Homo sapiens: one gene and its partners. The protein of the gene in region 4 interacts with the protein of the main gene of each other region in a biochemical or structural test. Each region holds a gene or a part of one and is shown on either strand. Other genes may lie near its edges.

What was found.
Region 1: the proteins of ITK (region 4) and GRB2 form a complex in vitro, tested with the Homo sapiens proteins (2 studies listed by BioGRID).
Region 2: the proteins of ITK (region 4) and KHDRBS1 form a complex in vitro, tested with the Homo sapiens proteins (4 studies listed by BioGRID, with this or other methods).
Region 3: the proteins of ITK (region 4) and ERBB3 form a complex in vitro, tested with the Homo sapiens proteins (2 studies listed by BioGRID and IntAct, with this or other methods).

What each region holds. Positions count from the first base shown.
Region 1 is NC_000017.11:75,395,651-75,402,678, forward strand, and holds part of GRB2 (growth factor receptor-bound protein 2), read right to left. Parts: intron 1-7,028. UniProt on the Homo sapiens protein: Non-enzymatic adapter protein that plays a pivotal role in precisely regulated signaling cascades from cell surface receptors to cellular responses, including signaling transduction and gene expression.
Region 2 is NC_000001.11:32,037,842-32,044,379, forward strand, and holds the end of KHDRBS1 (KH domain-containing, RNA-binding, signal transduction-associated protein 1), read left to right. Parts: coding exon 1-195; exon of another isoform or gene 196-278; intron 279-710; coding exon 711-778; intron 779-1,673; coding exon 1,674-1,732; intron 1,733-4,685; coding exon 4,686-4,783; 3' UTR 4,784-6,036; downstream 6,037-6,538. UniProt on the Homo sapiens protein: Recruited and tyrosine phosphorylated by several receptor systems, for example the T-cell, leptin and insulin receptors. Once phosphorylated, functions as an adapter protein in signal transduction cascades by binding to SH2 and SH3 domain-containing proteins.
Region 3 is NC_000012.12:56,097,146-56,104,014, forward strand, and holds the end of ERBB3 (receptor tyrosine-protein kinase erbB-3 isoform 1 precursor), read left to right. Parts: coding exon 1-85; intron 86-639; coding exon 640-795; intron 796-1,354; coding exon 1,355-1,430; intron 1,431-1,613; coding exon 1,614-1,760; intron 1,761-2,502; coding exon 2,503-2,600; intron 2,601-2,692; coding exon 2,693-2,884; intron 2,885-3,028; coding exon 3,029-3,100; intron 3,101-3,915; coding exon 3,916-4,216; intron 4,217-4,383; coding exon 4,384-4,910; 3' UTR 4,911-6,360; downstream 6,361-6,869. UniProt on the Homo sapiens protein: Tyrosine-protein kinase that plays an essential role as cell surface receptor for neuregulins.
Region 4 is NC_000005.10:157,239,829-157,246,856, reverse strand, and holds part of ITK (tyrosine-protein kinase ITK/TSK), read right to left. Parts: intron 6,796-7,028; coding exon 6,662-6,795; intron 5,212-6,661; coding exon 5,137-5,211; intron 3,235-5,136; coding exon 3,063-3,234; intron 2,596-3,062; coding exon 2,379-2,595; intron 1,132-2,378; coding exon 1,067-1,131; intron 977-1,066; coding exon 858-976; intron 1-857. UniProt on the Homo sapiens protein: Tyrosine kinase that plays an essential role in regulation of the adaptive immune response. Regulates the development, function and differentiation of conventional T-cells and nonconventional NKT-cells.

The DNA of each region.
Region 1 (7,028 bases), on a different chromosome or scaffold from region 4:
TTCTAAAGAATGTGCTTTTACTGCTTTCTCAGTTTATTCCAGCCATTATCTATTGCCTGAAAGGTGAAGATTTAGTTTCCCCCGACCTATACCAGTAATATCACATATTCTGGTTTAATCAGTAGTATGTTATGAAATACTACTCACTGATAATTTAAATAATGCACTAAAACCAATCATACTTTTTGTGTTTTTTTTTTTTTCTTTTTTGAGATAGAGTTCTCTAAGATTGCCCAGGCTAGAGTGCAGTGGCATGATCTCGGCTCATTGCAACCTCCACCTCCCAGGTTCAAGCGATCCTCCTACCTCGGCCTGTAGCTGGGACTACAGGCATGTGCCAACAAGCCTGGCTACTTTTTATATTTTTAGTAGAGACGGGATTTCACCATGTTGGCCAGGCTGGTCTTGAACTCCTGGCCTCAAGTGATCCGCCCACTTTGGCCTCCCCAAGTGCTGGGATTACAGGCATCGGCCGCTGTGCCTGACCCAATCATACTTTTTTGTACAATCCTTAGATTTTTCCCAGCATTAGCAACTGCTTAATGTTCTATTTTTTACTTGCCTAGTTCCCTGTGTATCTACTTTTACTTTTTCTTTTCTCTTTTTTTTTGAGACAGGGTCTTGCACTGTTGTCCAGGCACGAGTGCAGTGGCATGGTCATGGCTTACTGCATCCTTGATCTCCTTGGCTCAAGTAATCCTCATGCCTCAGCTTCCCAAGTAGCTGGAACTACAGGTGTGGGCCACTATGCCCGGCTACTTTTTCTATTTTTTGTAGAGACAGGGTCTCACTATGTGAGACCAGTCCAGTATAGCTTAGTGTTGAATTTGCATGGTCTCTAGAGGCAGGCCCCTCACGCTAACTGCTACAATTTTGGGCAAACTTTTCAAACAAGCTCCAGTTTCGTCATCTGTAAAATGAGAATAATATCTACCTTTTAAGACCCAGGCTGGTCTCAAACTCCTGGCCTCAAGCAATCTGCCTGCCTCGGCCTCCCAAAGTGCTAGGAATACAGGGGAGAGTGAGCCACCACGCCCAGCCCTATTTTTACTTTTAATGAATGCTCCAAAATCTCTCCTACTATCAAGATTTTCCTCAGCCTATTTATTTTAACTGGTCTCTAATGCCGAGACTATGTATTAGTGATAGGAAGCTGAAGAATATTTACAATGATAGGAAAAGAATAAGGAGTTTTATTTTTGAAAAACAGAAATCAGATAGAAATGAAAAGCCCTGTCACTTTCAAGGTGCTATGTAGTACGACCAGCCATAAGCTTCTGTGTCATTCAGGATTTAAGACAGCTGCAATGTTACTACTCAACAGCAGTACAAAAACCAAGACAGTTCTCAATACCTGCTTTCCTGCTGCTACTCAGCTCATCTGCTGAAAGCTTAAAAAGAATAACCTTCTTGAAAGTCGTGTTTTGAGTAACTATTGCTTTGTGAGATGCAGAGTTTGACAGAAAATTAAATCCCTACTTCCATGGCTGTGCTGAGTAAAAAAACAGAAAACTCAAAGAGGAAAGCTTATTAGGTTATCCACCCAAAAGAGCATATTCGCTAAAGGAATTCCAAAGGGTGTGTTTCAGTAAAGACAAAAAAAAATCTAACACATACACAACACTAATTACTAAAAGGAAGAAATCTGAAAGCAGACACAATGTATAATGATTTTAACAGAGTAGATGTTGCTGTTCACTTCCCAAGAAAATGGGGTATAGTGTACTTAACACTGAAGCCTAATGAGAGTAACCTCGAAACTGTTACCAGCCCATCCCAAGCAGTGAATTTTAAGAAAGGTAAGTACAGCTTTAATCATTCATTTCAAACAATGTCTACTGTATCCAAAAAAACTACTATCCTAAAGGTATTTGCAAGATTTTTTTTCTTTCTTCCATTTAACTCTCTTCTTCCCAAAATTCACAGAAAATAAAATACATGACAACAGTCCAGTATAGCTTAGTGTTGAATCTTCATGGTCTCTAGAGGCAGGCCCCTCACACTTACAGCTACAGTTGTGGGCAAAGTTGTGAAACAAGCTCCAGTTTTCTCATCTGTAAAATGAGAATATCTACCTTATAAGATCCACTGAGGATTAAATTAGACAACATATATAACATACATTAAGTGCTCTGGATAGAGCCCGACATGTAATAATCACTCAAAATTTATTTATTTATTTATTTATTTATTTATTTATTTATTTTTTGAGACAGCATCTAGCTCTGTCGCCCAGGCTGGACTGCAGTGTCACGATCTCAGGTCACTGCAACCTCCGCCTCCTAGGATCAAGCAATTCTCCTGCCTCGACCTCCCAAGTAGCTGGGACTACAGGTGCGCGCCACCAAGCCTGGCTAACTTTTGCATTTTTAGTAGAGATGGGGTTTCGCCATGTTGGCCAGGCTGGTCTCAAACTCCCACCTCAGCCTCCCAAAGTGCTGGGATTACAGGCATGAGCCACTGCACCCAGCCTTCAAAAGAAATTTTAAATGTTACTCTATTTAAAACATATGAAAAGAAATGCAAATTAAAACAATCAGAGTTTTCATATACTAATTGGCAAATTTTAAAAATATTTATAAAATCCAATCTGCAATACTTTGAGTAAACACACTTTTATTTATTTATTTATTTTTCAGAAAGGGTCTCACTCTGTAGCAAAGGCTGGAGGGCAGTGGCGTGATCTTGGTTTACTGCAACCTCCGCCTCCTGGGCTCAAGGGATCCTCTCACCTCAGCCTCCTTAGTGGGGACTACAGGCACCAGCCACCATAGCCTACTCATTTTTTTTTGTAGAGATGGGGTCTCCCTATGCTGCCCAGGCTGGTCTCAAACTCCTAAGCTCAACAGATCTGCCTGCCTTGGCCTCCCAAAGTGCTGGGATTACAGGTATGAGCCACCGCACCAGGCACAAAGACTTTTTACCCTACCCGGTGTCCACTGACTCAACATTTTGAGAAGTTACTAACTGACAATGTGGCTTGGTGTTACATTATAATAATAAAATCACCACAGAACCCACACTACAGCAAGGAATTAATGAGCTCAGCTCAATCTTTTTGGTGAGTTCTTTGGTAATCTATTGACAACTTTTATTTATTTTTATTTATTTTTTGGAGACAGAGTCTTGCTCTATCCCTCAGGCTGGAGTGCAGTGGCGTGATCTCCGCTCACTGCAACCTCCACCTCCTGGGTTCAAGCGATTCTCCTGCCTCAGCCTCCCAAGTAGCTGGGATTACAGGTGCCTGTAACCATGACCAGCTGATTTTTCTATTTTTAATAGAGACAGGATTTCGCCATGTTGCCCAGGATGGTCTTGAACTCCCGACCTCAGGTGATCCGCCCACTTTGCCCTCCCAAAGTGCTGGGATTACAGGCGTGAGCCACTGCGCCCAGCCTATTTACTTTTATTATTTGAGACAGAGTCTCGCTCTATTGCCCAGGCTGAAGTGCAGTGGAGCAATCATGGTTCACTTCAGCCTCAAACTCCTTGGCTCAAGCCATCCTCCTGCCTTAGCCTCCCAAGTAGCTGGGACTACAGGTGCACACCACCATGCCTGGCTAATTTTTGTGTGTGTGTGTGTGTGGTGACCAGGACTCACCATGTTGCCCAAGCTGATCTCAAACTCCTGGACTCACGTGATCCTCCCCATCTCAGCCTTTCCAAGTGCTGGGATTACAGGGGTGAGCCACCACACCTGGCCTTGACAATCTTTTCTTTTTTTTTTTTTTTTTTGAGATGGAGTCTCGCTTTGTCACCCAGGCTGGAATGCAGTGGCACGATCTTGGCTCACCACAACCTCTGTCTCCTGGATTCAAGCCATTCTCCTGCCTCAGCCTCCCAAGTAGCTGGGATTACATGCCCCCACCACCACGACTGACTAACTTTTGTATTTTTAGTAGAGGCAGGGTTTCACCATGTTGGTCAGGCTGGTCTTGAACTCCTGACCTCGTGATCCACCCGCCTTGGCCTCCCAAAGTGCTGGGATTACAGGCCGTGAGCCACCGCGCCCGACCAACAATTATTTATTTATTTTTTTGAGACAGAGTCTCGCTCTGTCGCCCAGGCTGGTGTAGTGACGCAATCTTGGCTCGCTGCAAGCTCCGTCTCCCAGGTTCATGCCATTCTCCTGCCTCAGCCTCCCGAGTGGCTGGGACTATAGGTGCCCACCACCACACCCGGCTTATTTTTTTGTATTTTTAGTAGAGACATGGTTTCACCATGTTAGCCAGGATGGTCTCGATCTCCTGACCTCGTGATCCGCCTGCCTCAGCCTCCCAAAGTGCTGGGATTACAGGCATGAGCCACCGTGCCCGGCCCTGACCGACAATTTTGAAATATTAATACATACTCTTTTTTTTTTTGAGACAGGGTCTTGCTCTGTCACCCAGTCTGGAGTGCAGTGGGTGCCATCTTGGCTCACTGCAGCCTTGACCTCCCAGGCTCAGGCCATCCTCCCGCCTCAGCTTCCCAAGTAGCTGGGACTACAGGTGTGTGCCACCACACCTGGCTAATTTTTGTAAATACATACTCCTTTTTTTGAGATGGAGTCTTGCTCTGTCACCCAGGCTGAAGTGCAATGGCACGATCTCAGCTCACTGCAATCTCCGCCTCCTGAGTTCCAGCAATTCCCCTGCCTCAGCCTCCCAAGTAACTGGGACTATAGGCGTGCACCACCATGCCTGGCTAATTTTTGTACTGTTAGTAGAGATGGGCTTTCACTAGGTTGGCCAGGCTGGTCTCAAACTCCTGACTTCAGGCAATCCACCAGCCTTGGCCTCCCAAAGTGCTGGGATTACATGCATACCACCATACCCAGCCTCATGCTCCTTTTTTCTTTCTGAGACAGAGTCTCGCTCTGTTGCCCAGGCTGGAATGCAGTGGTGTGATCTCATCTCACTGTAACCTCCACCTCCTGCGTTCAAGCGATTCTCCTTGCCTCAGCCTCCCAAGTAGCTGGGATTCCAGGCGTGTCACCACCACCTAATTTTTGAATTTTCTTTTTTTGTGTGTTTGTGTGTGTTTTTAATGTTTGTATTTTCAAATAAAGACGAGGTTTCACCATGTTGGCCAGGCTGGTCTCCAACCTCAAGTGATCCGCCCACCTCGGCCTCCCAAAGTTCCAGGGTGACAGGCGTGAGCTACTGTGCCTGACCAATACATACTCTTGACCAAGCAATTCCACTTCCCAGATTTATCTCACTGAAACAATGAGACAAAATACAATGTGCAACATACACATATACACCCACACCCTTGATCAATATCCATGAGCTTGTGTATGGAGTATCTACATAAATACCAGGATATATCAATTTTTTTTTTTTTTTGAGACGGAGTCTTGCTCTGTCGCCCAGGCTAGAGTGCAGTGGTATGATCTCTGCTCAAAGCAACCTCCACCTCCCGGGTTCAAGCCATTCTCCTCAAATTTTTAAAGCTGCAGAAAAATTATAGTTTATCCTATTTCTGTAAGGCAAAATAATACATCAGTATGTGCTTAAAAAAAAAGGCTAGGCCGGGCGCAGTGGCTCACGCCTGTAATCCCAGCACTTTGGGAGGCCGAGGCGGGTGGATCACGAGGTCAGGAGATCGAGACCATCCTGGCTAACAAGGTGAAACCCCGTCTCTACTAAAAATACAAAAAATTAGCCGGGCGCGGTGGCGGGCGCCTGTAGTCCCAGCTACTCGGGAGGCTGAGGCAGGAGAATGGCGTGAACCCGGGAAGCGGAGCTTGCAGTGAGCCGAGATTGCGCCACTGCAGTCCGCAGTCCGGCCTGGGCGACAGAGCGAGACTCCGTCTCAAAAAAAAAAAAAAAAAAAAAAGGCTAACAATGGTTATCTCTGCTAGCGAGATCACAGAACACTTTTACTTTCTGCATGATACACCTCAATTGTATTTTCATTATTTTTACAATAGGCATGTGTTACTTTTGTAGTTACAACACAAACCAAAAAGCTTACTGACGCTCTGGAGTTAGACTTGGATTCAAATGTCACTTTCCACTTACTAATGAGGGGACACTGGAGAAGTAACTTATACTCTGTAATCCCTAGTATCCCTTAACTGGAAAATGGGAATAATAACAGCCAACTACCTTATAAAGTCATTTTGATAATTAAAAGAGATAATGGTTGTAAAATGCTTGGCAGAAGTCTCTGGCTCTCTCCAAAAGACTGAGCTAACTAATTATCCACTATAGTGTGGGCTGTGATGATTTTATTATTATAATGTAGTATAAGCCAGAGACCTTAACTAGTATTTTCAGTCTCTTTTCAAATACTAGCCTACATGTTCTAAGAGTAAATGTGGAGCTTCCATCTGCATAGGCAGATATCCTGATGAAACCATCATCAGTTGAAAATATTGTTACATGGAAATGCATTTTAATACACCTAACCTACCAAACACCACAGCTTAGCCTAGCCTACCTTACCTTAAATGTGCTCCAAACACATTAGCCTACAGTTAAGCAAAATCATCTAACACAAAGCCCATTTTATAACAAAGTGATGAATATCTCCTGTAATTTACTGACTATGGTACTGAGAGTGAAAAACAAAACAGTTATATGGGTACTGGAAGTATAGTTTTTACTGAGCGCTATTGCTTTCACACCACTGTAAAGCTGAAAAATCTTTCGTCTGAGTCTACAGACTCAGAAGAATTCTCTGGTAGGCAAATTAATGACCCTATTAAGTATAAATTTCAAGTTAAATCACTCCACATCACAGTATTAAGAATGCTAAAAAATTTACACATGTAAAAATGAATCATGCTTATAGTCACTCATTCCATTAGGCTATTCTAAATACTGACTTTGTGTATACACAGAAAAATGTAATTTTAAGTTGAATTACTTAAAGCCACACAGCAGTCTTATTATTTATGGCTGCATTTGGTAACAACAGTTTTGATCCTTAGACCATCTGTATCAAAATCCACCCATTCAGAGACTGATTCACTGTGGGGTACATCCTGGAGTTCTACCAGAACCTAATTTTAAAAAGATCTCCCAGTGATTTTTATG
Region 2 (6,538 bases), on a different chromosome or scaffold from region 4:
GGTGTTGGACCACCTCGGGGGGCTTTGGTACGTGGTACACCAGTAAGGGGAGCCATCACCAGAGGTGCCACTGTGACTCGAGGCGTGCCACCCCCACCTACTGTGAGGGGTGCTCCAGCACCAAGAGCACGGACAGCGGGCATCCAGAGGATACCTTTGCCTCCACCTCCTGCACCAGAAACATATGAAGAATATGTAAGAAATTTGAACAATGTGCCATTTCCCAGTACCTAGAAGGCTGCTAAAGGAAGTTGAATGACAGGGCCTCGGTCCTTTATGTAGGTGTCATGGACTGCCTGTAAGATTTGCAATCTGCCCTCTTCTCTTGCAGTGAATGTTGAACTATTAGAAGATTTTTCCATTTTAGGCAGGGTTTTACTATACGCCTGTAGATTAAACAAGAAATAAAATGTACTTTAATGTAGTATTTTATAATGAATTTCTTACTACTAGTACTGATAATACTAAAGCTCGATTTTGTACTTTACTTCCTGCCCACACTTCTTCTGTGGCATATCATATTTGTTTGGGTTTTCTTTGTTTAGTAACCCTTTCTCTTTTGACTATTCTACAGTAGGCATTAACATTTTGGAGGGAAATGTCATGTCCTTTTAATTCAGAAGCCTACTTACTCCCATGGGATGTAATTACCTTTCCTACTCTCTATGATTTTGATCTTTTATTTCATTTTTTTGTTGTTGTTGTTCTAGGGATATGATGATACATACGCAGAACAAAGTTACGAAGGCTACGAAGGCTATTACAGCCAGAGTCAAGGGTGAGTCAGGCAGTATAAGCACTGTTTTTTGTCCTGAGGATGGATGGAGGGAGTTGGAGGAACAGAGAGATTTAGACAGTACAACCCTAAGGAGCAGAATGGTTCGCCTTTTGAGGGTATCTCCTCTGCAACCCCCACAGTCCTGACTGGTCTTGAACTCTTGAGCTCAAGCAGTCCTCCCACTTTAGCTCTCTCTAGTAGCTGGGGTTACAGGTGCGTGCCACCATGCAATGCTTTCCTCTGCGTTTGACATCTGTGAAGCACACACTTGGATTTGTAAATCTGGATAACTGTGAACCTTAAATTATAATTTAGAACCTGAGAGTAACAAATGAAAAATTTCCAAGCTGTGACTACATGGAAACAAGGAGAAATGCCTTTATGTTATTTTGATTTATTATTTTAAAATATCAAAACCACATTAAAGCTCCATAAAATTTTACAAGAAACTTGAATTCCATTACCATAACTTAGGTTCTTTTCTGCATTTCTCTTTAAGACCATTTCCTTGTGTGTCCATATATATAGCTTACCTGTGAATTGATTGAAAAAGAGTTCCAGAATTCTACAGCAGTGATAAAACAGTTCTTTTTTCCTTCTGGTGAGCCCTATGAATACATGTATATATATGCTATATTAAAAGGGTCAATTTAGGATTGTGCTTTTTCACTTTATATTCTGTGGTATCCATTTTTCTTTGCAATAGTTGTCAATTATTTTATAAGTACATAGTCTATACATATTTTGGAAATACTTTACGGTTTAGGGATGGGGCAGAATGAGTATTTTCCTGTATTAATACACTTAGTAAAATGACTGACTTATGGAAGTATTTGAGAGAAAGTTGAAACATAGTTACTCTGTAGCTTCCTAACACTCTGCCTTTGGCTTTCAGGGACTCAGAATATTATGACTATGGACATGGGGAGGTTCAAGATTCTTATGAAGCTTATGGTATGTCTTTATCTCTGTGGTGGGGCAGAATGTACAAGTAAGTGCCTGGGAGAATGCTGGTGACTAAAGTATTGAGAGTCAGACAAACACACCTACGGATAAACCTTTAGAAGGCCAAGATTTTGCTAGATGTGACAGTAAGAGTTCTGCTCTTGCTTAAATTTTGCGGTACATGGTAGAAAGAGGGACTGCTAAAGTGAGGTGGGGTATCGTTACTCTTGGAAGGGTAGTGTTTGTCTTAAACAAGGGCTCAAGACCAGCTTGGCCCTGGTTGGAGCAGCAGACTTATAAGCTAATGTTATTTTTTTTCTACTTTAGGCAGGGAAATAGCTAGACCTGGGTTGTATTTCTGGGCCTTTGCTGCCGATATCTAGGCCACTTTGGTAGATAACAAGAACTTAATCGTACACAACTGTACTCATCTACCCCATTTCATTAAAAAAAAAATTTAGATCTCATTGAAAAGAATGTCATTGTAAAGGAAATGTCAGCTGAAAGGGACCTAGATGGCAAGCAGCTAGCCAGACCAGGTTGCGGGGCAAGAATAGTGCCTATTAGGGCCGGGCGTGGTGGCTCATGCCTGTAATCCCAACACTTTGCGAGGCCGAGGCAGGCGGATCACCTGTGGTCAGGAGTTCGAGACCAGCCTGGCCAAGATGGTGAAACCCTGTCTCTACTAAAAATACAAAAAAATTAGCCAGGTGTGGTGGTGGGCGCCTTTAATCTCAGCTACTTGGGAGGCTGAGGCATGAGAATCACTTGAACCTGGGAGGCGGAGGTTGCAACGAGCTGAGACCGTGCCATTGCACTCCAGCCTGGGCAACAAAAGTCCGTCTCAAAAAAAAAAAATAGTGCCTATTAGAATCAGATTAGAGGCTGTAGGGGCTAGAGCCAATAATTCAGGACAGTACTGGCACCAAGCTCCTTGTTGGCTTGAAGACATCAACACAGTCCTTGATCCCAAGAGAGCTATGGAGGCTGCAACAGCAGCAGGACAAGGCTGCCTTCCCTGAGGTTTGGTTAAAAACACATCGCTCAAGTGTGTCCTCAAGAGCCAGTTATGGCCCTGTGTTAATAGGCCTCACTGGGAATACTATGTGGCAGTGGATGCAGCGAGAGCTACCTTTTCAGTATAAGGTATTTTCAGCATACCTGAGGGACTTCCAGAGAGTCCTTGGCAGGGGCTCAGCGATTGACAGTTCACGCTAAGATACTGGTTGACAGTCTCCCCTTATCCCTAGCTGAAAAAGAGGAGCCCCTTAGGGCCTCCCAGAGACAGACAAGCTGAGCCCAACTCAGCACAGTATGAAGTAGCCAATCAGCTGCTTGCCCAAGGAAACTGTTTTTACCAGTTTTAGCGAAATAGCACTGGACAGTTGCCAATCACTAACACTGTGTGTGATTGCACCCAAGTATTTCCCTCCATCAGTGAGGCAGTACAGTGGGGCCTCTGTATGTGTTTGACTAAATTGCATTTCTGTTTTGCTGGAGAAAAGACCAAACTGAAAGAGGCAGGCTTCTCTTTGTGCTCCTGATACGACGTTGCCACAGTTAATCCGTTCTGATCTCTGCTTTGATTAACAGAATTAGAGAAATAAACTGTCCAGGATGATCTGTATACGTCAGGAAAAAAAGAAAAAGAAACTGTCTTGTTGATACCCAGAAGCCACTTGGAAAGTGATGGACATGTGTGTTATACTAGGGGTATAATTAGGGTTCTGTGTGACTTTAGATCTGTATAGGAGTTTGAGGCCTATAGAGATGGAGGCAGATACTTGTGAATACAGGCAGCTGGAAAAATACTTCAGGGATGAACTAGCGTGTGTAAGGTGTGGGAAGAATAAATTTAACGCAATTTATTTTCATAAGAGGTCACCTCTAGAATTATGTGATCATATTCCTCAGGCTTTTCCCTGTCACAAAGGAGAACCATTTGAGGATGTGAACCACATTGTCTGGCTTCTGGCTTCTCTCACCTGTTGACTTAAGAAAGGAGATAAGGAATTATCCTTTTTTTTTTTTTTTTTTTTTTTTGAGATGGAGTCTGGCTCTGTTGTCCAGGCTGGAGTGGAGTGGCACAATCTCAGCTCACTGCAACCTCTGCCTCCCAGGTTCAAGCACTTCTCCTGCCTCAGCCTCCTGAGTAGCTGGGATTACAGGCATGCGCCACCACGCCTGGCTAATTTTTGTATTTTTAGTAGAGATGGGGTTTCACCCTGTTGGTCAGGCTGGTCTCGAACTCCTGACCTTGTGATCTGCCTGCCTTGGCCTCCCAAAGTGCTGGGATTACGGGCGTGAGCCACCGCATGCAGCCTTGGAATTATCTTAAACAGTGCTGTCAGTGCAACATTTGATTGCACATCCCTCTACCAGAGAGAGCAGTATCAGCTCTGCTGGTGGAGGGCCCCATGGAAAGTGGCCCTTGCTTGGTTTTCCCAGGGAGCTAGAGGACACTTCTCCGTAAGGAAACGTGACTTGCTGTTGCATGGAAGTGGGGCTGGCTGCCTGCTTCCAATCTGAAAGACTTCCAGAAGTCTTCCCACCTTACCTGAGGGTGCCTGCCAAATTGTTTTGGGAACAGGAAAGGCCATTGCAGACTCACTAAGATTAATGAGTTCCTCACTATCTCAAGCAAGGTGTTGGGTATCTCCAGGTTTGGGGACTGGCGTACAGATCACATTTGTCTATGAAGAACCTCGTTGTGGGAGATTACTCCAGAGTCAATGGCAGCCTTTTTAGATTTGTTCCCTTCTGTCCTTCCACTCAAAACTGAAAAATTGCCCAGGCTGCCCAAGAGGGCCAAGCCAAGTAGAGAGCAAGGAACACCAGGGGAAGTGTCAAGACATTAGAAGAAACTCAGTGTTTTTGGTGATCTTTACTATGTGACCTATCCCTGCTTATCCCTAAGTGCTGTCGCCACATGGTTTATAAACTGTCTTTGTTTTCCCCACAGGCCAGGACGACTGGAATGGGACCAGGCCGTCGCTGAAGGCCCCTCCTGCTAGGCCAGTGAAGGGAGCATACAGAGAGCACCCATATGGACGTTATTAAAAACAAACATGAGGGGAAAATATCAGTTATGAGCAAAGTTGTTACTGATTTCTTGTATCTCCCAGGATTCCTGTTGCTTTACCCACAACAGACAAGTAATTGTCTAAGTGTTTTTCTTCGTGGTCCCCTTCTTCTCCCCACCTTATTCCATTCTTAACTCTGCATTCTGGCTTCTGTATGTAGTATTTTAAAATGAGTTAAAATAGATTTAGGAATATTGAATTAATTTTTTAAGTGTGTAGATGCTTTTTTCTTTGTTGTTTAAATATAAACAGAAGTGTACCTTTTATAATAAAAAAAAGAAGTTGAGTAAAAAAAAAAAACACACAAACCTGTTAGTTTCAAAAATGACATTGCTTGCTTAAAGGTTCTGAAGTAAAGGCTTGTTAAGTTTCTCTTAGTTTTGATTTGAGGCATCCCGTAAAGTTGTAGTTGCAGAATCCCAAACTAGGCTACATTTCAAAATTCAGGGCTGTTTAAGATTTAAAATCACAAACATTAACGGCAGTAGGCACCACCATGTAAAAGTGAGCTCAGACGTCTCTAAAAAATGTTTCCTTTATAAAAGCACATGGCGGTTGAATCTTAAGGTTAAATTTTAATATGAAAGATCCTCATGAATTAAATAGTTGATGCAATTTTTAACGTTAATTGATATAAAAAAAAAAACAACAAAATTAGGCTTGTAAAACTGACTTTTTCATTACGTGGGTTTTGAAATCTAGCCCCAGACATACTGTGTTGAGAGATACTTAGAGGGAGGGAGTAGGTTTTGAAGAGGTTGATGGTGGTGGGGAGGGAAGGCCTCCTGAATTGAGTTTGATGCAGAGCTTTTTAGCCATGAAGAATCTTTCAGTCATAGTACTAATAATTAAATTTTCAGTATTTAAAAAGACAAAGTATTTTGTCCATTTGAGATTCTGCACTCCATGAAAAGTTCACTTGGACGCTGGGGCCAAAAGCTGTTGATTTTCTTAAGTTGACGGTTGTCAATATATCGAACTGTTCCCAAGTTAGTCAAGTATGTCTCAACACTAGCATGATATAAAAAGGGACACTGCAGCTGAATGAAAAAGGAATCAAAATCCACTTTGTACATAAGTTAAAGTCCTAATTGGATTTGTACCGTCCTCCCATTTTGTTCTCGGAAGATTAAATGCTACATGTGTAAGTCTGCCTAAATAGGTAGCTTAAACTTATGTCAAAATGTCTGCAGCAGTTTGTCAATAAAGTTTAGTCCTTTTTTAATCAAAGTAAATGTGATGAATTGTCATTTTTTTGGGTGGACCATAAAATAGTTTTCTCTTTCAAATAAACTTAAATTAACTCTAAAGTTAATGGGCTTGTTAAAAGTTGGAAACATTCTTAAAAGTGGTGGGGGGGATTTTATTTTAAGTTTACCAAAAAAAAGTTGATGGAGTTGTTAAGTTTTAGTTTAAAAATAACCAAAGCTTTTTCACCCCCTGGAAGTTGTTGGAAGCTGTTGTATCCAATCCTATCAAAAATTCTAATTTATGGAGAGTTTTCAACTCAACTGAGCTGAAACTTGGATTGGTTTCCATAGATAGGTCTCAGTATTTAAAAGTGCAAGCCAGCCTGGTTTGCACCTTCTGTAGAACCCCTAGGTGGCTCTAAAGTGTGACACCAAATAATTTCTGTGAGCTCAGAAGGGGACAGCATCTGCCTTTAGGCATGACAGTTCAGCCAACTCTGGGTGCCCTTGAGGGTTTCTCTTTCAATCCCAGAAATGCTGAT
Region 3 (6,869 bases), on a different chromosome or scaffold from region 4:
GGGTTCTCTGCTGGATCATGTGAGACAACACCGGGGGGCACTGGGGCCACAGCTGCTGCTCAACTGGGGAGTACAAATTGCCAAGGTGAGAGAAGCCTGGAGGAATTCTGTGATAAGAACTGCTTGTCTGGGGGCCAGCCAGGAAAAAGTGAGAAGGTTGAAGTTCTGAGAGGTGAGGTCCCCAACCCCCGGGCTGCAGACTGGTACCAGTCCATGGCCTGTTAGGAACCAGGCCACAGAGCATGTGAGCGGCAGGCAAGCGAGTGAAGCTTCATCTGTATTTACAGTCAGTCCCCATCACTTGCATTACCGCCCGAGTTCCGCCTCCTGTCAGATCAGGGGCAGCATTAGATTCTCTTAGGAGCTTGACTTCTATTGTGAACTGTGCATGTGAAGGATCTAGGTTGTGCACTCCTTATGAGAATCTAACTAATGCCTGATGATCTGAGGTGGAAAAATTTCATCCCAAAACCAACCCTCCCCTTCCCCTGGAAAAACTGTCTTCCACAAAACCAGTCCCTGGTGCCAAAAAAGGTTGGGGACCACTGCTGAGAGGTACCTTCAAGATTTGGGGGAATTCCAGATCTCAGTGACTGATTCCCCCAACCTTAAGAATACTTTCTTCCCCTATACCTACAGGGAATGTACTACCTTGAGGAACATGGTATGGTGCATAGAAACCTGGCTGCCCGAAACGTGCTACTCAAGTCACCCAGTCAGGTTCAGGTGGCAGATTTTGGTGTGGCTGACCTGCTGCCTCCTGATGATAAGCAGCTGCTATACAGTGAGGCCAAGGTGAGGAGACACAAAGGGTAAGGAGGCGGGGGTGGAGTGAAGCATGGGGATAGGGAGCAGCCAGTGGTCTCTTCCAGAGGCAAGCAGATGCTTCATGGTAAGTTCAAGGAGAGAAGGCTGCAGATGCCAGATATTTTAGTTCAGAGGGCAACAAATAAAATAATGATCAAGAACTTGGGACTGGCCGGGCGCGGTGGCTCACGCCTGTAATCCCAACACTTCGGGAGGCCAAGGCGGGTGGATCACAAGGTCAGGAGATCAAGACCATCCTGGCTAGCACGGTGAAACCCCGTCTCTACTAAATATACAAAAAAAAAAAAAATTAGCCAGGCGTGGCGGCATGCATCTGTACTCCCAGCTACTCGGGAGGCTGAGGCAGGAGAATGGCGTGAACCCAGGAGGCGGAGCTTGCAGTGGGCCGAGATCGCACCACTGCACTCCAGTCTGGGCGACAGAGCGAGACTCCGTCTCAAAAAAAAAAAAAAAAGAATTTGGGACTTGGAAATCCTAAGAAAATTTGTGGAAATAAACTTGTGATACCTCTATCTTTAATCCGCAGACTCCAATTAAGTGGATGGCCCTTGAGAGTATCCACTTTGGGAAATACACACACCAGAGTGATGTCTGGAGCTATGGTCAGTGCATCTGGATGCCCTCTCTACCATCACTGGCCCCAGTTTCAAATTTACCTTTTGAGACCCCCTCTTAGAATCTCTAAGCACTTCAGATTTTTGTGTTAGATCAGGTTCTGCCTTCCCTTCACTTCATGCCCATGTCTACTATTTTGCCAGTGACTAGTCCATGTCTTCCTGCAACAGGTGTGACAGTTTGGGAGTTGATGACCTTCGGGGCAGAGCCCTATGCAGGGCTACGATTGGCTGAAGTACCAGACCTGCTAGAGAAGGGGGAGCGGTTGGCACAGCCCCAGATCTGCACAATTGATGTCTACATGGTGATGGTCAAGTGTGAGTTACCTGCTGAGCCCAACCATTTTCTCTTTTTTTCTTTTTTTTTCTTTTTTTTTTTTTTTTGAGACAGAGTCTCACAATTGTCACCCAGGCTGGAGTGCAATGGTGCAATCAATCTTGGCTCACTACAACCTCCGCCTCTCGGGTTCAAGAGATTCTCCTGCTTCAGCCTCCGGAGTAGCTGGGATTACAGGCGCCCGCCACACCTGGATAACTGTTACACTTTTAGTAGAGATGGGGTTTCACCATGTTGGCCAGGCTGGTCTCAAACTCCTGACCTCAGGTGATCCGCCTGCCTCAGCTTCCCAAAGTGCTGGGATTACAGGTGTGAGCCATCATGCTCGGCCTGACTGCAGCCATTTTCTGACTTCCCTCTGTACTCCTCTTATGGCTCTATTCCTTTTTTTTTTATGGAGTCTCGCTCTGTTGCCCATACTGGAGTGCAGTAGCGTGACCTTGGCTCACCGTGACCTCCACGTTCCAGGTTTAAGTTCTTCTGTCTCAGCCTCCCAGATAGCTGGGACTTTAGGCGTGCACCACCACGCCCAGCTAATTTTTTTTTGTCTTTTTAGTAGAGATGGGGTTTCACTATGTTGGCCAGGCTGGTCTCAAAGTCCCGACCTCAGGTGATCCACCCGCCTTGGCCTCCCAAAGTGCTGGGATTATAGGTGTGAGCCACCGCGCCCGGCCATGGAATGTATTCTCTTTTATGTCTCTACCTCCTACATCTTATCTCCAGGTTGGATGATTGATGAGAACATTCGCCCAACCTTTAAAGAACTAGCCAATGAGTTCACCAGGATGGCCCGAGACCCACCACGGTATCTGGTCATAAAGGTGAGTAGGGAGTAGGAGGTGCTAAGGAAATTTAGAAAAAGGAGGAGTTGGCTGGAACCAGGATTCCCCCTAACAATCACCTATCGATATAGAGAGAGAGTGGGCCTGGAATAGCCCCTGGGCCAGAGCCCCATGGTCTGACAAACAAGAAGCTAGAGGAAGTAGAGCTGGAGCCAGAACTAGACCTAGACCTAGACTTGGAAGCAGAGGAGGACAACCTGGCAACCACCACACTGGGCTCCGCCCTCAGCCTACCAGTTGGAACACTTAATCGGCCACGTGGGGTAAGACAACTTCTAATTACCCAACACTTTGCACCCTGAGCCCTCACAAACCCTACAGATACCCAGATTAACTACTCAAAGGCCCCCATGGTGAATGTAGATTTCTCCCTTCATCTTAACCTTTTCCTTATTTTTTCATCCTAGAGCCAGAGCCTTTTAAGTCCATCATCTGGATACATGCCCATGAACCAGGGTAATCTTGGGGAGTCTTGCCAGGTAAGTTCTGTTGCTGAGAGGCTGGGTTTTAGGATCAGATTGATACGAGTAGTATGGAAGACATTAGAAACCTCTGAGGTTTAATCAGTGTCCTGCAAAAAAGAAGGCAGTGAGGGCCGGGCGAGTTGGCTCACACCTGTAATCCCAGCACTTTGGGAGGCCAGAGAGAGTGGATCACCTGAGGTTAGGAGTTTGAGACCAGCCTGGCCAACATGGTGAAACCCCGTCTCTACCCAAAATACAAAAATTAGCTGGGTGTGGTGGTGCACACCTGTAATCACAGCTACTCAGGAGGCTGAGACAGGAGAATCGCTTGAACCCGGGAGGCAGAGGTTGCAGTGAGCTGAGATTGTACCACTGCACTCCAGCCTGGGTGACAGAGCAAGACCCTGTCTCTTAAAAAAAAAAAAAAAAGGCCAGGTGCGGTGGCTCACGCCTGTAATCCTAGCACTTTGGGAGGCCGAGGTGGGCGGATCATGAGGTCAGGAGTTCGAGACCAGCCTGACCAACATGGCAAAACCCTGTCTGTACTAAAAATACAAAAACTAGCTGCACATGATGGCAGGTGCCTGTAATCCCAGCTACTCGGGAGGCTGAGGCAGGAGAATCACTTGAACAGGGAAGCAGAGGCTGCAGTGAGCCAAGATAATGCCACTGCACTCCAGCCTGGGCGACAAGAACAAGACTCCACCTCAAAAAAAAAAAAAAAAAAAAAAAAAGGCAGTGAACAACCCAATATCCTTCTAAACAAATCTCTCTTCTTTCCTCATCATGTAAATTTCCTTGCATTATTTTCTGTTTATTTTCTTCCTTAGGAGTCTGCAGTTTCTGGGAGCAGTGAACGGTGCCCCCGTCCAGTCTCTCTACACCCAATGCCACGGGGATGCCTGGCATCAGAGTCATCAGAGGGGCATGTAACAGGCTCTGAGGCTGAGCTCCAGGAGAAAGTGTCAATGTGTAGGAGCCGGAGCAGGAGCCGGAGCCCACGGCCACGCGGAGATAGCGCCTACCATTCCCAGCGCCACAGTCTGCTGACTCCTGTTACCCCACTCTCCCCACCCGGGTTAGAGGAAGAGGATGTCAACGGTTATGTCATGCCAGATACACACCTCAAAGGTGCCTGACTCTTCCTAGGGCTTTCCTCAATTTTTCCTCGAATTCTTTCCCCGGGCTCCTCTTTTTTCTTCTCTGATCATATGCCTCTCTGTCCTATTAATTTTTTCAAACTTTCCCCTACCCTCATGAAGTTCTTCACATACCTAGCCTTTCTTCTCAACCCCCAGGTACTCCCTCCTCCCGGGAAGGCACCCTTTCTTCAGTGGGTCTCAGTTCTGTCCTGGGTACTGAAGAAGAAGATGAAGATGAGGAGTATGAATACATGAACCGGAGGAGAAGGCACAGTCCACCTCATCCCCCTAGGCCAAGTTCCCTTGAGGAGCTGGGTTATGAGTACATGGATGTGGGGTCAGACCTCAGTGCCTCTCTGGGCAGCACACAGAGTTGCCCACTCCACCCTGTACCCATCATGCCCACTGCAGGCACAACTCCAGATGAAGACTATGAATATATGAATCGGCAACGAGATGGAGGTGGTCCTGGGGGTGATTATGCAGCCATGGGGGCCTGCCCAGCATCTGAGCAAGGGTATGAAGAGATGAGAGCTTTTCAGGGGCCTGGACATCAGGCCCCCCATGTCCATTATGCCCGCCTAAAAACTCTACGTAGCTTAGAGGCTACAGACTCTGCCTTTGATAACCCTGATTACTGGCATAGCAGGCTTTTCCCCAAGGCTAATGCCCAGAGAACGTAACTCCTGCTCCCTGTGGCACTCAGGGAGCATTTAATGGCAGCTAGTGCCTTTAGAGGGTACCGTCTTCTCCCTATTCCCTCTCTCTCCCAGGTCCCAGCCCCTTTTCCCCAGTCCCAGACAATTCCATTCAATCTTTGGAGGCTTTTAAACATTTTGACACAAAATTCTTATGGTATGTAGCCAGCTGTGCACTTTCTTCTCTTTCCCAACCCCAGGAAAGGTTTTCCTTATTTTGTGTGCTTTCCCAGTCCCATTCCTCAGCTTCTTCACAGGCACTCCTGGAGATATGAAGGATTACTCTCCATATCCCTTCCTCTCAGGCTCTTGACTACTTGGAACTAGGCTCTTATGTGTGCCTTTGTTTCCCATCAGACTGTCAAGAAGAGGAAAGGGAGGAAACCTAGCAGAGGAAAGTGTAATTTTGGTTTATGACTCTTAACCCCCTAGAAAGACAGAAGCTTAAAATCTGTGAAGAAAGAGGTTAGGAGTAGATATTGATTACTATCATAATTCAGCACTTAACTATGAGCCAGGCATCATACTAAACTTCACCTACATTATCTCACTTAGTCCTTTATCATCCTTAAAACAATTCTGTGACATACATATTATCTCATTTTACACAAAGGGAAGTCGGGCATGGTGGCTCATGCCTGTAATCTCAGCACTTTGGGAGGCTGAGGCAGAAGGATTACCTGAGGCAAGGAGTTTGAGACCAGCTTAGCCAACATAGTAAGACCCCCATCTCTTTAAAAAAAAAAAAAAAAAAAAAAAAAAAACTTTAGAACTGGGTGCAGTGGCTCATGCCTGTAATCCCAGCCAGCACTTTGGGAGGCTGAGATGGGAAGATCACTTGAGCCCAGAATTAGAGATAAGCCTATGGAAACATAGCAAGACACTGTCTCTACAGGGGAAAAAAAAAAAAGAAACTGAGCCTTAAAGAGATGAAATAAATTAAGCAGTAGATCCAGGATGCAAAATCCTCCCAATTCCTGTGCATGTGCTCTTATTGTAAGGTGCCAAGAAAAACTGATTTAAGTTACAGCCCTTGTTTAAGGGGCACTGTTTCTTGTTTTTGCACTGAATCAAGTCTAACCCCAACAGCCACATCCTCCTATACCTAGACATCTCATCTCAGGAAGTGGTGGTGGGGGTAGTCAGAAGGAAAAATAACTGGACATCTTTGTGTAAACCATAATCCACATGTGCCGTAAATGATCTTCACTCCTTATCCGAGGGCAAATTCACAAGGATCCCCAAGATCCACTTTTAGAAGCCATTCTCATCCAGCAGTGAGAAGCTTCCAGGTAGGACAGAAAAAAGATCCAGCTTCAGCTGCACACCTCTGTCCCCTTGGATGGGGAACTAAGGGAAAACGTCTGTTGTATCACTGAAGTTTTTTGTTTTGTTTTTATACGTGTCTGAATAAAAATGCCAAAGTTTTTTTTCAGCTTCCTGTCTGTCAAATGAAGACATTTCGTATGTTAGATAAGAGATCTGCTCCTCAGCAGTGGATACTCACCTTTCTGTGTTCTGACAGTGCTACTCTGTCCCATGCAGCTTTCTCTAGTCCTACTATTACTTCTATTTCTTTAGAACAACCATAGCGCATAGTCCTTTTCATTAAGGGTTTTAGTAGGAATCTACAAGGCAACCAATTGGGAATAACAAAAAGAACCTACGTGCTTTAGGACTTATAAAAAGCCCTATAAGCCCTCCTTCAGAGGCCAAACACTGAAACCTCCAGATGCTTCTGAATTCATTATCTTAGAAAAGTCATCAAATCTTTTTATTTTTTCACGGTAAGAACTCTCAACAAACATGTCTTTCTGAACACTTCCCTTAGGTGCTCCATCCAGGTGCCTGTTATTGGAACAATAAAGTCATGTTACTTCATTAGGAGTCCGGCCTCTAGATTGCGAGGCCTTTAAATGGATGATCCCTCCGGTGTCTGGCTGC
Region 4 (7,028 bases):
ACCAGCTTCATTGCCTGTTGTTCTCCCAATAAGTCAGTACCCCTTGTTCTTTGGATGCACCAAGTTTTTGCACTTGCTGGTCCCTCTGTCAGGGACACTGTTCCCTGGCTCTTCAAATGGTGACAGCTCCCTCCTATCATTCAAGTCTCTGCTGAAGAATTACCTTCTGAGAAAGGCCTTCCCACACCACACTATTCAAAGCAGACCCTCTCTCTATCCTAGTCACTCTGCCCCATTACTGTTTTATTTTATTCATAGCACCTACTTATGATTGCCTGGCTTTATCTTCTATCCCTTAGCTTGTTTATTATTATTATTGTTTATGACTGTTATTATGATCTTTTGTGATTTTCTGTCTCCCCTCCCATCTCAAATTTAGTTCCAAAAGAACAGAAGTCTTTTCTGTTCTATGAACCACTGCATCCTCAGCACCTAGATTAGCCCTTGGCATAGAATAGATGATCAGTTAATTGTTGTTGAATGAATGAATAAATATTAATACTTATTGAGAGATAAGTATGGAAATGTAGTGTTGGACAAAACATGGTCCCTGCCTTCAAGGGGCTCATATTTGAATCTCCTGACTTCTCCAGCTTTTGACTTCACAGCAGCTGGCACCAGAACTCTTGTTTCCACTTTTAATTAACTCCCACCACCATGTCCAGTATCTCTAAAAACAAACAAAATGATGAAGGCCCTTTCATAGTTTTCGGGGCCTTTCTTACACAACCCTCCAGTGGGACACCCTCATGATATGATACAGGGTTCAGTGTGGGTAGGGTTGTCTGCATTTGATAAAGGAAACAGCTGGCCTGAAGCCCAGATCATGGGGCAGTGGGGCCCAGCATGACACTCACCAAATGACCACACATCGGACTTGCTGCTATAGCGACTGAAAGAGAAAACCTCTGGGGATGCCCACTTCACCGGGAATTTGGTGCCTGTGGAACTGGTGTACTGATCATCCAGAACGAACCTGGGAAGAGAGTGGAGGGAGAAGGTCAGAATGTTCCGGGGGCCTCAGTCCCATTCCTGAGACTTCACCGGCACCACATCCCTCTTTTACCTTGTCATCCCAAAGTCAGACACCTTGATGACTTGGTTTTCTCCCACCAAACAATTTCTGGCAGCCTGGAGAGGAGACAGGCAAACAAAGGCGGAGAGGAAAACTGTTGATGAGTCATCAGTAGTTAAGGAGTCTCCTATAATCACAGTCCTTTGCTTTACTGCAGTGCTGTCATACAAGGGCATCATGGAGCTTTACAAATGTTAATTAAGCCTCACAAATGCCGCTGGAAGTTAACTGGAAAGTTGAATGTGTAAGATCCACTATCAAGATGAGTAAGTTTATCTTCATTCTTGAGTTCTAATTAGAAATCCTTGGTGTTGTCTAACCAAAGATAGGCTCTAATGCAACCTGATGTGATAGGAAATGTTAACATCAGGGATAACAGGAAGAAAGCATCTCCCAGTTGACTAAATTAAGAATGTTTTGATGTTGTTAATCCTCTTAAAACTGTTCTTCAATAGGGAGAGTACCTGACCCCTAATTAGTATTATAGACTGTTGCATTGAAAAAGCCATTGGAGATAACACTCCAGTGTGTCTCAATTTTTTTTTTTTTTTTTTTTTTAGATGGAGTCTTACTGTGTCACCCAGGCTGGAGTGTAGTGGCTTGATCTCAGCTCACTGCAACCTCTGCCTCCTGGGTTCAAGTGATTCTCCTGCCTCAGCCTCCCAAGTAGCTAGGGTTACAGGTGCCCGCCAGTAAGCTCAGCTAATTTTTTGAATTTTCAGTAGAGATGGGGTTTCACCATGTTGGCCAGGGTGGTCTCGAACTCCTGACCTCGTGATTCGCCCACCTCGGCCTCCCAAAGTGCTGGGAGTACAGGCATGAGCCACCGCACCCAGCTGCATATCTCAAATTTTAATGTGCATACAAATCATACGGGGAATGTGTTAAAATGAATATTCCTGAGTCCCAGCCACCAGAGATTCTGAGAGTAGCTTAAGGGCTTCCCCAGTGTGATTCTGGTAGACCCTTGAATAATACCTTCAGACAAACTCAGTTTCCTCAATTTACCAGGAGGAAATTGAGTCACAGAGAGGTTAAGAAGGAGTGGCAGTTATCTCCATTTTGGAAGAATATAAACTGAAATGCAGGAGGTGAAAGAGTTTGGGCTGGGATCAGAGCCCAGAAGTAAGTCCTCATGAAGCCCTTTCCACTAGGACCACCCAAAGTAGGTGAAGGAAGGGAGAAGTTGAGAAAGGAAAGGAGATTATCTGTAATGTATTATTTATTAATGCGTTCCCAGTCATTTCAGTGAGAACTGTCCCTTTACCCTGGACCTGTGGGTGTTCACCCTGCATGCTCATACCAAGTCTCTGTGGATGACACATGCCTCTTCCAGGTAGGCCATGCCCTCACACACATCCAGACACATGCCCAGCAGGGTCTCTGCAGCAAAAAGTCCCCGCTGGGTGCGTAGATAATCTGACAGGCAGCCGTGCTCCATGAACTCAAACACCAGGCAGATGGGGGCCTGCTCCAGGCACACCCCATACAGCTGCACCAGTTTGGGATGAGAGAGTTTCCTGGAGGAAAAAGACAAGGGGTGAGATGGCCTAAACTCAGTCTCCCAAAAATGCCGAAAATATTATGGTACCAAAATAGCCAATGGTCATTTTGTCTAATTTATGGTTTGGATGAAAATAATATTCATTCCCTCCCCAAAACAAAAACATGTCATTGGAGCTGAGACCTGAAAAATGGCAAGGAGTCAGCTGTGTGTGTGAAGATGAGCAGAGGCCAGTGTGGCTGGCATGTCATGGACTGGAGGAGAGATGGGTAGGAGCTGAGAAGGGGGAGGTGGGCATGATCAGATTATGGTGGGCCTTGGAGACCACTGTGAAGAGTTTGATTGTATTCTCTGTGCAATAGGAAGCCACTGCTGGGAGTTTGCGCAGGGAGATAGTACCCCCTGGCGTTTGAATGGCATTTCAAGAACACTGAACCGATGTTCCCCCCAGAGTTTCTGCATATCCTTGTTCTGAGCACTCACATCATTACTTCAGCCTCCTCTATGAAGTCCTCTTCTGACATAGCCCCTTCCCGAATGGTTTTGATAGCCACCTTGTCCTTGTTGAGCCAGTAGCCCAGATGCACCAACCCAAATTGCCCACTGCCAATCTCTTGCACAAAAGTGAGCTCTGAGGGGTCGATCACCCATTTCCCTGGAAGAGAGAGAGAGAGTTCTCTGGGGTCAGCAAGCAGTAGATATAAGGTATTGGGATACCAGGGGACTATAAAGCCCTAACTAGAATTTTAGCCTATTGTTAATATAATTCAAAGATGGCAAATAAATTATCTTTTTCCCACATAATAACATAGGATATGCTAGAAAACTATGAAAATATGTGTGGGAAGGTAACATGGAAAGAAGGAGAGTGGCATTAATGAAGATATTAAAGAAACCATATTAATCAAAATATTAAAGAAAGGGTTCTTGCAATGTCCCATTTTTCTATGTCATTTTTCACACTAAGTAAATTTCATTGAGCTGATCATTCTTTCATTCATTCATCTATTAAGAGCACCTGCTATATACACATAACCCTATTAGGCCTTACTGGGGCAGAGGGGCAGTTAAAGAGAAAGATTTAAAGAGAATTTGTGCAGAGGCACAAGCTAGCACAGTGTCTGGCACATGGGAGGCTCTCAAGAAATGTTTAACAAACAAATACGAGATTCCGAGGCTCAATTTCCTCACCAACAAAATGAGTAGGCTGACCAGGTAATATCTGAAATCCCATCCAGCACGGACACATCAAGATTCTACATTTATTAGAATACCCTTATTTTCATAAGGAGGCTAAAGAGGCACTCTTTCCCCAGTGCTTGGTCTGGTACCTAAACAGCCAGATTTCCACTGCTTTGAGGCAGAGACTCAACAGCAGGCAGTATTGAGCACCTACTGTGTGCCGGACACGGTGCTGGTTAGGGATAAAGAAGCCCATGCGTGGCAGTGGTTCTCAAAGTATTGCCCTCTGACCACTTGTATCAAAATCACCTAGCATGCTTGTTTAAAATGTAGACTCAGCTGGGCACAGTGGCTCATGCCTGTAATCCCAACACTTTGGGAGGCTGAGGCAGGAGGATTGCCTGAGCCCAGGAGTTTAAGACCAGCCAGGGCAACATAGTGAGACCCTGTCTCTACAAAAAATTTTTAAAAATTAGCCAGGCATAGTAGCTACTTGGGAGGCTGAGGTGGGAGGATCGCTTGAGCCCAGGAGGTCAAGGCAGCAGTGAGCCATGATTACGCCACTGCATCTCCAGCCTGGGTGACAGAGGGAGATCATGCCAGAAAAAAAAGTAGACTCCAGGACCCTATCAAGGATTGTGTTTTGGTGAGTGTTTGGATAGGAGCCAGGAGTCAACATTTTTAATAAGCATTCTAGAAGACTTTGATGCACACTGAAATTTGAGAACCACCAAGCTAGGAGATAAGAAATGAAAATTAGACCAGCCTTCTCCACAGGCAGCACACAGTTGGGACCAAGGGATGCAAAGCCAAATGCCTTCAGAGTCCAGGCAGGTAATCCCAAGTGAGTGAAGCAATTCCGTAGGGCAAGAAAACATAGTAGGGGCTGCGGCACTGGAGATCATGCCACGCCTAAAGGTATTCCAAAGAATTTTAACACTCTCTTATGCAGAGAAACACTTCTAGATGCTCTCAACTTGCAGTTCTGGCAATAGTCTGCTACTCAACCAACTAGATGATATAAAAGTTCTAGAAGATAGGTGGAAACACAGTGCTAAGGCATGGTTTTCTAATATTTTTCTAATAGCATTTAGTAGGGTGCTCTGTACAAAGTAGGTGCTTAATAAACACTTCATTAATGAACTCTTCACTAAAACCAATGGCCACTGGTTTGACCTAGAGAAATGTGCTTGTATATGTACTTCTCTTACACACAATGTAAATATTCATTAGTGCCATCATCTCTAGATATATAATACACTTGTTTTAATGGTGATTTGTAGTCTGAGGAACAGGTAGGCTCATGGCCAGTTTATTCAGAATTTGCCCCAGACCTTTAGGGACATGAGTTTACATTCCTGATTGTACTGCTCACCGTATCTCAGCCCTGCTGTAACTGGGGCTTTCTGCCTCCCAAAACAAACTGGATACCGGAGTCGAGTCACCAGGCCTGGGTTGATTGAAAAGCCAAGAAGCAGTGGTTAGGGCTTTGCTCTAGCAACCATCTAACTTAAATCACTAAAAAAAATAATAATCATCATCAGACGCAAAAGCTAATTTTATTCTGGAAAACAAATCCCAAAGCCTAATTATTGATATCATATCCTCCTTGAAAACATCATAAGCACAGATGGGCAAGTGGTAAAATTCCATTATTTCCACAAGATAGCTTGCTAATAGAAGATATATAATATAATTAAATATTTGTCATATTTTTCTATTTGTATATTTATTTATTATTTATAGTCAAAAAGAAGCCAGGGCGAGCTTTTGCCAGTTTTCATTAAGTCTCCTGTGTGGGTGCTGATATAGTTTGGATGTTTGTCCCCTCCAAATCTCATGTTGAAATGTAATCCCTGGCTGGGCACTGTGGCTTACACCTGTAATCCCAGCAGTATGGGAGGCTGAGGCGGGCAGATTACCTGAGGTCAGGAGTTCAAGACCAGCCTGGCCAATGCGGTGAAACCCTGTCTCTACAAAAAATACCAAAATTAGCGGGATGTGGTGGCACATGCCTGTAATCCCAGCTAATCAGGAGGCTGAGGCAGGAGAATTGCTTGAACCTGGGAGGTGGAGGTTGCAGTGAGCCAAGATTGAGCCACTGCACTCCAGCCTGGGCAACAGAGCGAAACTCTGTCTCAAAAAAAAAAAAAAGAAAGAAAAGAAAAGAAAGGAAAAGAAAGAAAAGAAAAGAAAAGCCCTATGTTGGAGGTGGGGCCTGGTGGGATGGGAGGTGGTGTTTGGGTCATTAGGTGGGATCCATCACAAATGCCTTGGTGCTGTCACTGTCCTTGTGATAATAAATGAGTTATCACTCTGAGTTCATGCAAGACCTGGTTGTTTAAATGTCTGTGGCATCTTCTCCCTCCTCGCTCCTGCTCCTGCCATGTGATACTCCTGCTCCCCTTTTGCCTTCTGCCATGACTGAAAGCTTCCTGAGGGCTCCCTAAAAGCCAAGAAGATGCCGGCACCATGCTTCCTATACAACCATGGACCAATTAAACCTCTTTTCTTTATAAATTACCCAGCCTCAGGTATTCCTTGATAGCAATTCAAAAAAGTCTAACCCAGGTGCCCTCTGGCTTTGTCCTCTAGAGCAGCAGTCCCCAACCTTTTTGGCACCAGGGATCGGCTTTGTGGAAGACAGTTTATCCATGGAGGGATGTGGCAGGGGGTTGCTTTCAGGATGAAACTGTTCCATCTCAGATCATCAGGCATTTGATTCTTATAAGGAGCACACAACCTAGATCCCACAAGTGCTGTTCACAATAGGGCTTGCACTCTTATGAGAATCTAATGACGCTGATCTGACAGAAGGCAGAGCTCAGGCAGTAATGCTTGCTCACCTGCTGCTCACCTCCTGCTGGGCGGCCCGGGTCCACCCCTGCTCTAGAGCTTACCTCCTCCATTATGTTGGTGATAGTTGATGAGAAGAGGGATGGAATCGAACACATACTTTTCAGCCACATAGTATCGCTTAGGATTGTCATTTGTTTCCTTGATGTGATAATGCTTTATACAGGGATTGTTCTCACTTAAACAAATGAAACACAAATGTAATGATTATTAAGAAGCAATGTTGAGACACAAAAAAGTCTACGAGTATTAAGTTCTTATTATCTTTGTCTTATAACCTCTCACAAGGTGGCAGATATTGTTCAACTTATAAGTCTGTCTTGACAGATTGGGCCTGGGTGCTGCAGTACTGTGTTAAAAAGGACTCTGAGGTTGTGTCTGGACCCAGTGGACAGCAATGCTGTGATGGAT